2 separate regions of the Homo sapiens genome follow, and region 1 is linked to region 2. The links come from fine-mapping of genetic effects on gene expression. A gene starts in region 2. The other region holds a variant in brackets. All regions are shown on one strand. Distances are from middle to middle.

Region 1 (5,245 bases), 23 kb after region 2:
CCACTGGGGACATTTTAAATAATACAGAATGGTAGATTGTATCCCGAGAGATTCTAATTTACTTTGTTGTGTTAGGCAGCCTGTGAATCTATTACTAAAAAGCTAATGGTACTGATTCTGATTTTAGCACAGCCAAGTTTAGAAACCAGTGGCCTAAGTCAGTGGCTTTTCTAAAGATGTCTCGTGCATGTGCAATGAGATAAAGGTTTGAGGGATAAGGCGGCTAAGCATTGACTCCATGGGACCTACTTATGCTTTAATTGTCTTTTATGTTCGGGTTCCATGTGTGTTTTCAAAAGAAGAGCTTTCTGTTAACAAATCATGTGATAATCTCTTTTCTAGAATATTAAGATTAATGTTTAGATGCCTAATTCATGATAACTTTGAGTAAACTGTATACATATTTTCCTTCATAGAGTTACTAATGCAGGGTTTTTTCTGTATGTGTCAAGTTTTCTTAGGTACCAGTTTAGGTGCTAGTTTAGATGCTAGTTTTCCATAGAGGAGAAACTGATCAAAAAGGTTTAAACTCTTAAAACTCCTAAAGAAGTTTTAGTCATCTTCCTCAATGAAATTGTTTAGGAGTGTTAACTACTTTTAAACTACTGATTCAAATTTATAGTCTCACTGCTTTTTCATACTCCATGACATTGAAATCTATTGGCCCATTTGCACTTTGAATGGATCTTTTGTCCATTTGTCAAATGCCAAATAAGACAGTTGACATTATGCCTTATTCATTTGGAAAATATTTGTTCAGTGAATAATATAGGTCTTCTGAATGTTGACACATATCATTATACATTGAAAAAACCACATTTGTTAATATTGCCATTATTCTTATCAGAAAAGTATATATTGAGATGCTGTAAAACTCAAAGATAGATTCAAGTTTTCCAACATTCTAATTTTCTCTTGAAAGCTTCAGTTTTATCATTGGTGACAAATACTGTCACTTATTTCCTTTGGAGTGATAGTCTCACTGTTCATTTTTGAGAAAGCCTGTCTAATAATCAAGTCTGGATAACCATTGCTTATCTGTCAGTTGTTCTTTCAAGTAAAAATGATGTTCTTTGAAAAAAAAGTGGCTACTGTAGCTCACAACTCAAAGAGCGCAGACAAAATTGAGATGTTGTGAGACACAAGTACAGCATGGTTTATGTGTATTTCCTGTCACACAGAATATTAAAAGGATATATATGCAAATGTGGACACTAGAATTTTTACTGCTTCAAAAGGGACTTTTGTGAATAAAAGGCTCAAATCTCCCTCCTCCCTGAAGAATACAATGACTTCTAGTGTAATTTGAGTCTACTATCTTGATTCCTGTAAAGGGGCAGCAGTTTTATCCACTGTTGTTTTTGCACCATTAGTTTAACTGTAAACATAGTGGAAAGGCACATAATATCTTAGTATCATTATGCAAACAGTTTTGATGTTGTGAATACCCTGAGAGGATCTCTGCAAATCCTAGGGTCTGGAAACCACATTTTTAAGGATCTTCTGTTATATTAATGGAATTTGGGGTGTTTTGTTCTGAGAAGCTGGCAGAAATCAGGCTGCCTGCTGCTTCTCCTTGTGAGCACTCCCCAGCTGTTGATTAGTTATTAATAATCCTCATTAACTGAAGCTACTTACAAAGCAGATTCAGTTTTCTGGAGCTTGTTGAAGTATGAGAGGGTAAAGTTGTTCATTTTCATCCTATTCCCTGCACACCTAAGGACTCTGATCAGGTGACTCCCTCATCTGGGAAGGTTATGCCCGCCCCAGAAACTTTAAGGATTTGTACCTTTTATTTCTTTTGAATGTTTTATTTAGTTCTTCATCTTTTCCTTCCTTCCCTCCCTCCCTCCCTCCCTCCCTCCCTCCCTCCCTCCCTCCCTCCCTTCCTTCCTTCCTTCCTTCCTTCCTTCCTTCCTTCCTTCCATCTCACTGTATTTTGGGCAGGAGTGCGGTGGCGTGATCATAGCTCATTGTAAACTTGAACTCCTTGGGCTCAAGCAGTACTCCCACCTTGGCCTCTCAAAGGGTTGGGATTACAGGCATAAGCCACCACACTCAGCCTACTCTTTTCTTTTATAAAACTGCCCTCGTGTGAGTTTTGAGTTCTGAGTTTTGTTTAATTTTGTATTTAGACCTGCTATGCAGGCTTAGCAGTGACTTCTGAGTTCTGTTTAATTTCATATTTAAGCCTGCTTTGCAGTCCTTTTATCCCTTATGTTGTCTGTGTTTTAGCCTTTTATCTAATTTGTTTTTATTTCAAATTTATTTTTATCTTTATATTTGGCCTCTCCCTATTTCTACAACCCCTGCATGCATGCAAAAGTAAGAAGTGAGAAAAAACATTAAGTAAAAGGAAATTCATGTAAAAGAAATTAATGAAAGGCGGGGGTAAATGAATTAAAACTATCCCAAACCCTAAGCAGGAATTATTTGAGGCTATTTTTGTTCAGTTCTTCTGTAACTGGCCTATCAATTCCTCATGTTATTAGCCTGTTCTCCCACTGCTGATAAAGACATACCCAAGACTGGGTAATTTATAAAGAAAAAGAGGTTTAATGGGCTCACAGTTCCACATGGCTGGGGAGGCTTCATAATCATGGTGGAAGGCGAGGAGGAGCAAAGTCACATCTAACATGGTGGCAGGCAAGAGCATGTGCAGGGGAACTCCCCTTTATGTAAAACCATCAGATCTCGTGAGACTTAATCACTGTCATGAGAACAGCATGGGAAATACC[C/T]GTCCCCATGATTCCATTACTTTCCACTGGGTCCCTCCCATGACACATGGGGATTATTACAATTCAAGATGAGATTTAAGTGGGGACGCAGAGCCAAACCATATCATCCACATAGACTTTCTTCTCTTGACACTAGTTTTCAGGCTATCATCTTGTGTGTAGATGTAAATTGAATCATATAGTTCATAATGTTTTGTGTTTGGCTTCTTCAGTGTGTAACATTATATTTGAAACATCTATATTGATGCAGGCAACAGTACTCTGTTGATTCTTATTACTATATTAACATACCGTAGTTTATCCATGCTAGTGTTGATGAAAAATGGGGTTGTTGACAATATTTGGTCTTTTCAAATGCAGCTGTTAAGAAGATATTATATATGTACATTTAAAAGATTTTTACTGCATTGTTTTCCATTGTATGGATGTTCATAGAAAAATCCCAGTTTATTAGGTGTTTAATAAAATTTTTTTTTGCTGTTAAAACAATTTTGTAGTAAAAATAGGAGTGAGTCAAAGTATACACATATTTAGATGAATTAAGTTATGGAACTAAGGGAGAATAAGATGGACCGGGAAGCTTTTCAGTTCCAGTTTCTATGCCATACTTTTAGAGCACCTAAGAGAGTTTTTTGGAAGTTTCTCTTCATTCCCTATTGATTAGGTGCTGATAATTTGTATCTGGAAACTTTTTTATGTATTTTGAACTTAGGTTTATCTTAGTGTGTTTTGTGCTGTTAAAGTAGAATACTCAAAACTTGGTAATTTGTAAGGAACAGAAATTTATTGGCTCATAGTTCTGGAGGCTGGGAAGTTCAAGATGAAGGAACTGGCATTTGGTAAGGGCCTTCCTGCTGTCATCCCATGGCAGAAGGGCAATGGAGGCACACACATCCTTTTATAATGAACCCACTCAGATGATAGTGACATTAATCCACACATGAGCAGTCACCCTTGCTACCCAAATACCTCCCATTAGGCCCTACCTCCCAAAACTACCATATTGGGTAGTGATCATGAACTTTGAGGGACACATTCAAATCATAGTAGGGTTTACAACTCCTAGAATCTAACTTGAGAAGAGTACATGAGACCTTTGAAGTTGACTTCTTTGTGATTTCTCCACCTGTGAAATGGTGATAAAGTAGTACCTACTTCGTAAGGTTAGGAGTGTGAGACATGTGATTAGTGCTAAATAGGTGTTATTTACTGCTGTTTATTCAAATCAGATAAGAGAACAAGAGAAATTTTCTCTGTTAGTGCAATGATATAGGAAAGTTAATATTGAAAGAACTGACTAGTATCTCATCAAATTTCAATTTTCTTGACACTATTGTTTTGAAAACATCTCTAATAATATATTTCAGTGCTTTTCCAGACAAGATAGAAAGACTGAGACTAATTTTTAGATTTGTTTGATTCAAAATCCTTTTTACAAAATCTTGTTTGATAAGATACAGTTCTGTCCTGTCTCCTGCCCCTTTTCCCCCTTTTTAAAAGAAAGTATTCTTAATTAAAGGGGATGTTTTCTAAGTGGTTTCTGTTAAGTTTGCTCAAGAGATTATCTAGATAATCTCTAGAGACCTAGTAGCGTAAGAATTTGTTTCCAGTTGGAAATACTAAGAAAGCAAGTGATCTCTTGGACTTATAACTAGTGTGACTTGTACTTTTTGTCTCTAAATGAACTGATGATTTGTCACATTAATATCATAAACCTTCCTTCACACTCCAGATTTTGGAGATTGAGACATATGTTCTTGTTTTTTCTTCTTATGTTCTTGGTTGTGCCTTTTGAGTTTCCTTTGTTGGTTCGTTCTCTTTCTTCTGACCTTTTAAAATATTTGTATGTCCCACGGGTTAATCCTTGAACCTGTTCTGTTTCAGTTAATCCTTTGGTGATTTTATACCATTGCTTCCTTCTAAATATCACCTATATGCCCAATTCCCAGTTTCGAATCTTTGTGCAGACCTCTCTGGAACTTCACAATCCTATGTCCAACCGTTACAGAACTCTACCAAAAAATCAAAGACATCTCAAATTTAACATTTCTAAAGCAACTGACCTTTAATCTGTCATACAGTAGGTTTTTTTTCTTGTGGATAGCAACAAGAAGGATAGAGTTTCTCAGGCTGAAAACCTTAGAGTCATCCTTGAATCTTTACTTTTTCACATTTTGAGTCAAATATGGCAGAAAATTCCCTTGTGCTTGATTTTCAAAATTTATCTAGAATCTGACCACTTCTCACTACCTTTTTTTTTTCTAGCTATAATCCTGTCTAAGACACCATTGTCTCTTTTGGGGTTATCACAGAAGTCTGTCTTTTCCACCCTTGTTTTACTGACAATATAGCAGTCAGAGTGATTCTTTAAAAATATGATACGTCTTTTCCTTATCTGCTCAAAACCCTGAAGTAGCTTCCCATGTAATTCAGAGGAAATGACGAAGTCATTACTGAAGCCTGCAGGGCCTTATGTGATCTGACATTCTTCCCCACCCCACAAACTT
Region 2 (5,245 bases):
GGCCTCAAGGGAGCTACTTGGAGAATTTGAAATATGGCCCCTGAAATTGAGGACACAGAGGGCTAGTGTCTGACCCAGTAGAGAGAACTACAGTGGACTGTAGCATCAGGGGCTGACTTTCTTGGGTATAATCAAAAAGGGCTGATTCCTTTGATTGTAGAACTAGGAGAATGGAGCTACATTGGGATTGGCCTGTGCTCCCAAAGTTGTTGGTGCAAGGTATGTATCATCATTCCTACAGAGGGGATTTAGACTATTTGGGGAAAGGGGAAGAACTGGCTTGGGGTTGTCTTAGGCCTCTCCTCCAACTTAAATGAGCTTCTAGAAGAAGATTACAAGACCTCAGCAGGAAAAGGAATAATTAAGTATACCTCAGTATGCTCTGGGGCTTGTGGAGGAGATATAAGTGACTACCTGTCAGTGGCTCAAGTCCCTGCAAGTTTGTGTCTTTCCACAGTCAGACTTTTGTTGATGCTATTTCAATCATAAAAGCCATGAGCTGTATGAAGGTCCGAAGGAGGTAATTTTCCTTAGTAGTACCCATTCATTTGGTAGTCAGAACCAAGGACACAAAGCTCTAGCCACTCCACAAGTCAGTCAATATTGCAAACCAAACATAGTAGTATACATAACATATAAATATTATAGGCTAAACATTCTAAAAGAAAATAACATTTAACATCAAGAGAAAGGTTAGGAAAACAGGATTAACCAATCCAAGGAGAGCAACATGGACAAGGAGAGTGTCCTCGGCTGATCAGGATGCATATCAACATTTTGCAAGGAAGAGTCTTTGATTTGAGCAGAACCTTTGGTGGCAGATGCTAGATGCTGATCATGAGTGACAGTAAGACAGTGTCTGTTAAGATGGCTATCTTGAGCTGTTGAAGTTCTACTCTTTTTATAGCCTCAGAGTCCTCTGGTGTTGACTGATAGTAAAGAGTGTGCCTGCAATAGCAAATACTTGGAACCAACTGAAATGTCCATCAGTGATAGACTGGATTAAGAAAATGTGGCACATATACACCATGGAATACTATGCAGCCATAAAAAAGGATGAGTTCATGTTCTTTGTAGGGACATGGATGAAGCTGGAAAACATCATTCTCAGCAAACTATTGCAAGGACAGAAAACCAAACACCACATGTTCTCACTCATAGGTGGGAATTGAACAATGAGAACACTTGGACACAGGAAGGGGAACATCACACACTGGGCCCTGTTGTAGGGTGGGGGAAAGTGGGGAGGGATAGCATTAGGAGATATACCTGATGTAAGACTAGTTAATGGGTGCAGCACCTCAACATGGCACATGTATGCATATGTAACAAATCTGCACGTTGTGCACATGTACCCTAGAACTTAAAGTATAATAATAATAATAATAATAATAATAATAATAATAAAAGAGTGTGCCTGGTTATGTCGTTATCTGGTTGGGTGCAGTCTCTATTGATTAGGTGAACATCTGGTCCCTTTTGGCATGATTCCTTTTGAAATGTAAACAGAATCTTTTTCTAAGAAGTAGTTACTTATGTCAAGGGTGCTCTATACAATCTGGAATAGAGATATCAACCTGGAAGCGATACCTCTCTTCACTTTAAGGAAGCTATGACAGAGGTCTCCAGGGATATGAATTATTAGGAAGAAAGAGTGAAATTCAAACATTTGCAGGTCTAGAGGGCTTAAAGCCAGCTTATGATGGTACCAGTTCAAGTTAAAACTGTATTCTCCCCTATTCCCTTCTTATTCTGTCCAGGCAGGAAGGACCATCCTATTTTTTCCCTCAGGCTTCCAGCCGGAAGTAGATTATAGGTAGAGCATAACTCATCACCACATAATACATTGGAAAAAGATGATGGTATTTTTTCTCAGAGTTGTTTCTTGACTACATCACAGTGGTGAAACATGCACTCACACCCCTGTGGACTCAGGTAAGCCATCCCAAGAGTTTCCTCCCTGTGGACTCAGGTAAGCCATCCCAAGAGTTTCCTCCTTCTTCTTCATTGTGGGCCTATGGCAGTGTGTTTTGTTTGCTGATGCATATACCTTTACATACAAAGCTATCATGGAAATTCACAGGCATGCATACATCTGAATAGAAAGGCTATAACATCATGTGATAAGTTCATGTCCAGCCAACCAGTTATCCCGGCTGGGCACCAGTGCCAGTAAATTAGAGTGATTTGGGCAGCTAGTCAACTTTTATTCAGAGTCAGCTGTCTCATGCGTCCGTGTGAAGAGACCACCAAACAGGCTTTGTGTGAGCAACATGGCTGTTTATTTCACATGGGTGCAGGCGGGCTGAGTCCGAAAAGAGAGTCGGCAAAGGGTGGTGGGATTATCATTGGTTCTTACAGTTTTTCGGATAGGAGGTGGAGTGAAGAGCAATGTTTTGGGGGTAGGGGGTAGATCTCACAAAGTACATTCTCAAGGGTGGGGAGAATTACAAAGAAACTTCTTAAGGGTGGGGGAGATTATAAAGAACATTGATCAGTTAGGGTGGGGCAGAAACAAATCACAATGGTGGAATGTCATCAGCTAAGCTATTTTCACTTCTGTGGATCTTCAGTTGCTTCAGGCCAGCTGGATGTATACGTGAAGGTCACTGGGGATATGATGGCTTAGCTTGGGCTCAGAGGCCTGACATCAGCCATTCTTGCAACCTGGTAAGGAGTTCTGCTAATCACACACATTCCACCTTGTACACGAGGGCCAAACTTCCTTTTGGTGAAGAAGTATAAACCTCTAAAATTGACTTGGATCTCCAGGTCCACCTAGCCCATTCTTTGTGGAGTTCCCTTGCTGTTCTAGTCTATCAACTTAGGCTGAGTCAAATATCTCAATAGGTTGCCCAGCTATGAGCCAACACCCTGCTCTGCAGCCCTCCCACATCTCAGCTTGCAGGGAAGCCAGCGAGGGCAGCGTGGTGATGTCACTGCGTCCGCACGCGCCCCGCCCCTGAGCAGTCCTTGCTGCCCCGCCCCCGCTCGGCTCGCCGCCAGGGGACGCTAGTGGGTCCAGTCTCCTTGGCAACCACTTGCTCCTCCCCCTCCGCCCCTTTAACCTTTAGGGTGCGCGGGTGCAGTATATCTCGCGCTCTCTCCCCTTTCCCCCTCCCCTTTCCCCACCCCGGGCGCTCAGGTTGGTCTGGACCGGAAGCGAAGATGGCGACTTCTGGCGCGGCCTCGGCGGAGCTGGTGATCGGCTGGTGCATATTCGGCCTCTTACTACTGGTAGGGGAGGCGCTTGGAGTTTTCCCCATGTTTGGACTGGGGGAGGAAGGGAGGGGCAGGCCCTGCAGTTGGCCTCTCCGGGCCCCGGAGACCCTCTTCGCCCCGCCCCGCTTTTAGCTTGGACTGTGGAGGGCTCCTTAGTGTTGGGGGCTTGGGCGGGCGGCGGGGGCAGGGGGGTGTCGATTTCCGGTCTCTTTTGCTGTCATTTCACCGATGACGTCTAGGGTTGCAGGGTCCTTTTTGGAAGCTCTTGCCGTCATCGCTGACTTGGGCAATGGGGCCGGTGGGGTTTGGGGGCGGAAGAGACCCTCGGGGTTGAGAAGTATGTGGTGGCCTTTCGTCCCCTGTAAAACATTGTCACACGGTGTGGGGCGGCAGCGCTGGATCTTTGCAAGTTAAGTAGGCGCTGGCGTTGTTTACTTGTCACCTTCTCTGTATGTTTTTTCCCTCATTTTCCCTACCCTTGGGGCTAGTGAGTCTCCAACCTCTGTGCCCATTGTGTGATTCTGCCTTGATGACGTGAGTTGCTCGTTCTGACTTCCAGGTGTCACATTCTCTTCTAATCTTTTTTTGATTGGTGTAGATACCTGTGGAGGGCGGAGCTGTAGCCCTCTTTATTACCAGTATCGGAGTATATACTACTACCTGTCTGACCTCAGGTGCTTTCTTTTCCAACGATCTTATTTCTGCATATTCAGTGAGCAAAGTGTAGATAGAAATGTCTCAGAGTGGCCTGGCTATTACTTCCCTGTTCATATTAAAACCCTTTGGTTTATTTGGGAGTTCAATTTATTTCCTTTCATAACTTCTCTACCTTCTCAAATCTTCTCTTTTCTCATCGTCCGAGGCTGTAGTTACTTTCTGTTCTCACGTATTTTGACCTTTTTGCATTGCAAAACAAAAACCTCCAGTTCTGGAAATCAGGCTTGTTTGGTTTTACTTTAATTGTCAGATCCAGTTGGTGTCTGGTACCTATGTAGTATGTTCTAGTAGATTTTTGCAGTAGAGACTAAAAAAAGAAAATAAAAGAAAAGAATGGTGTGAAAATTTAAGAAAAGGATCCTCTTGTTACTGCCATCACTGTCACAGATAAAAACACTGCCTTTACCCTGGAACATGTTAGTCCTCTCTTGGAGGAAATGAAACCCTAAAGGTTGACTGTGGTCTCTGCAGCCACCCAGTCCTGTATTTGGAGAGCCCCCTGGCTTTTCCAGTCCATCAGATTTAGTTTGTTTAGAAAAAAATAAATAAGCATGTAATGTATGAAAGTTACGTGAGACTATCTTGGCAGTTATAAATTAATAAACATTTACGGTACAGAAGTGGTGTGAATTGTAAGAGGATGTAAACCAAACAAAATACGGCTTTAAAGAGGGCCTGAAGATAAGTGAGAAAACTGAAATTCTTGAAACATGTATTTTATGGACCGAAAGCCAAAGTGTGACTATAAATAAAGCAGGACTTAAGAGAATAGACAACAATATTGGAAGAAAATGAGAATTGTGGTAGAGTTTGGATAGATGAAGAAGAGAGGCCATTTAAGTTGGCAATATTACAGCAAGGACAAATAAAATCAGAATTGAATGTTGTCGTGGATAAAAGCATTAGGAAGAAGGACTTTTGTTTAAATTTCTGCAAATCTCTTTAAATCCTGGTTTATTAGAAGAAAGGCTGGTTTCTTTTGTTGCCTTCTACATTCAGTCTTTTGGGGTATGTTATTTTAGTCGAAGTGTATGGAGAAAATACAGCTGCAATGATAGGTAGTCAGAAACAGAGGAGCGTTTTTCAGATAATTGTGGATGTTTTTTGACACTACACCAAAGCTCAACAAGTGGAAGATTCATGTCAGCTGCAAGGTGGAATCTGAAACCCTATCAATGAGCATTTCATTCATTGTTACATTAAAATCCATTAGCCCATCTTGCACTTTGAAAGGCTCTTTTACCCATGCATGGTTTTATAACATGATGCCATGGCCACTTAGAAAATGTTGGTTTACTGAGTTATG

Evidence for each region. PIP is the estimated chance that this variant, and not a neighbour inherited with it, causes the effect.
Region 1: its variant is the best candidate, but not a certain one, in a credible set for the expression of LMBRD1 in whole blood (TOPMed, PIP 0.88).

What each region holds. Positions count from the first base shown.
Region 1 is chr6:69,771,630-69,776,874 of GRCh38, reverse strand. All of the region lies in intron 3 of LMBRD1 (LMBR1 domain containing 1), which reads left to right. Among named protein-coding and RNA genes, the nearest start is that of LMBRD1, 23 kb to the left of the region's middle. The variant C/T (reference allele first, on the strand shown) is at 2,739.
Region 2 is chr6:69,794,805-69,800,049 of GRCh38, reverse strand. It overlaps LMBRD1 (LMBR1 domain containing 1), which reads left to right and starts at 3,040. Exons shown (of 16, transcript NM_018368.4): 1 at 3,040-3,237. The coding sequence starts at 3,169. RefSeq lists enhancers at 3,119-3,348, 2,977-3,532, 3,659-3,708, 3,533-4,089.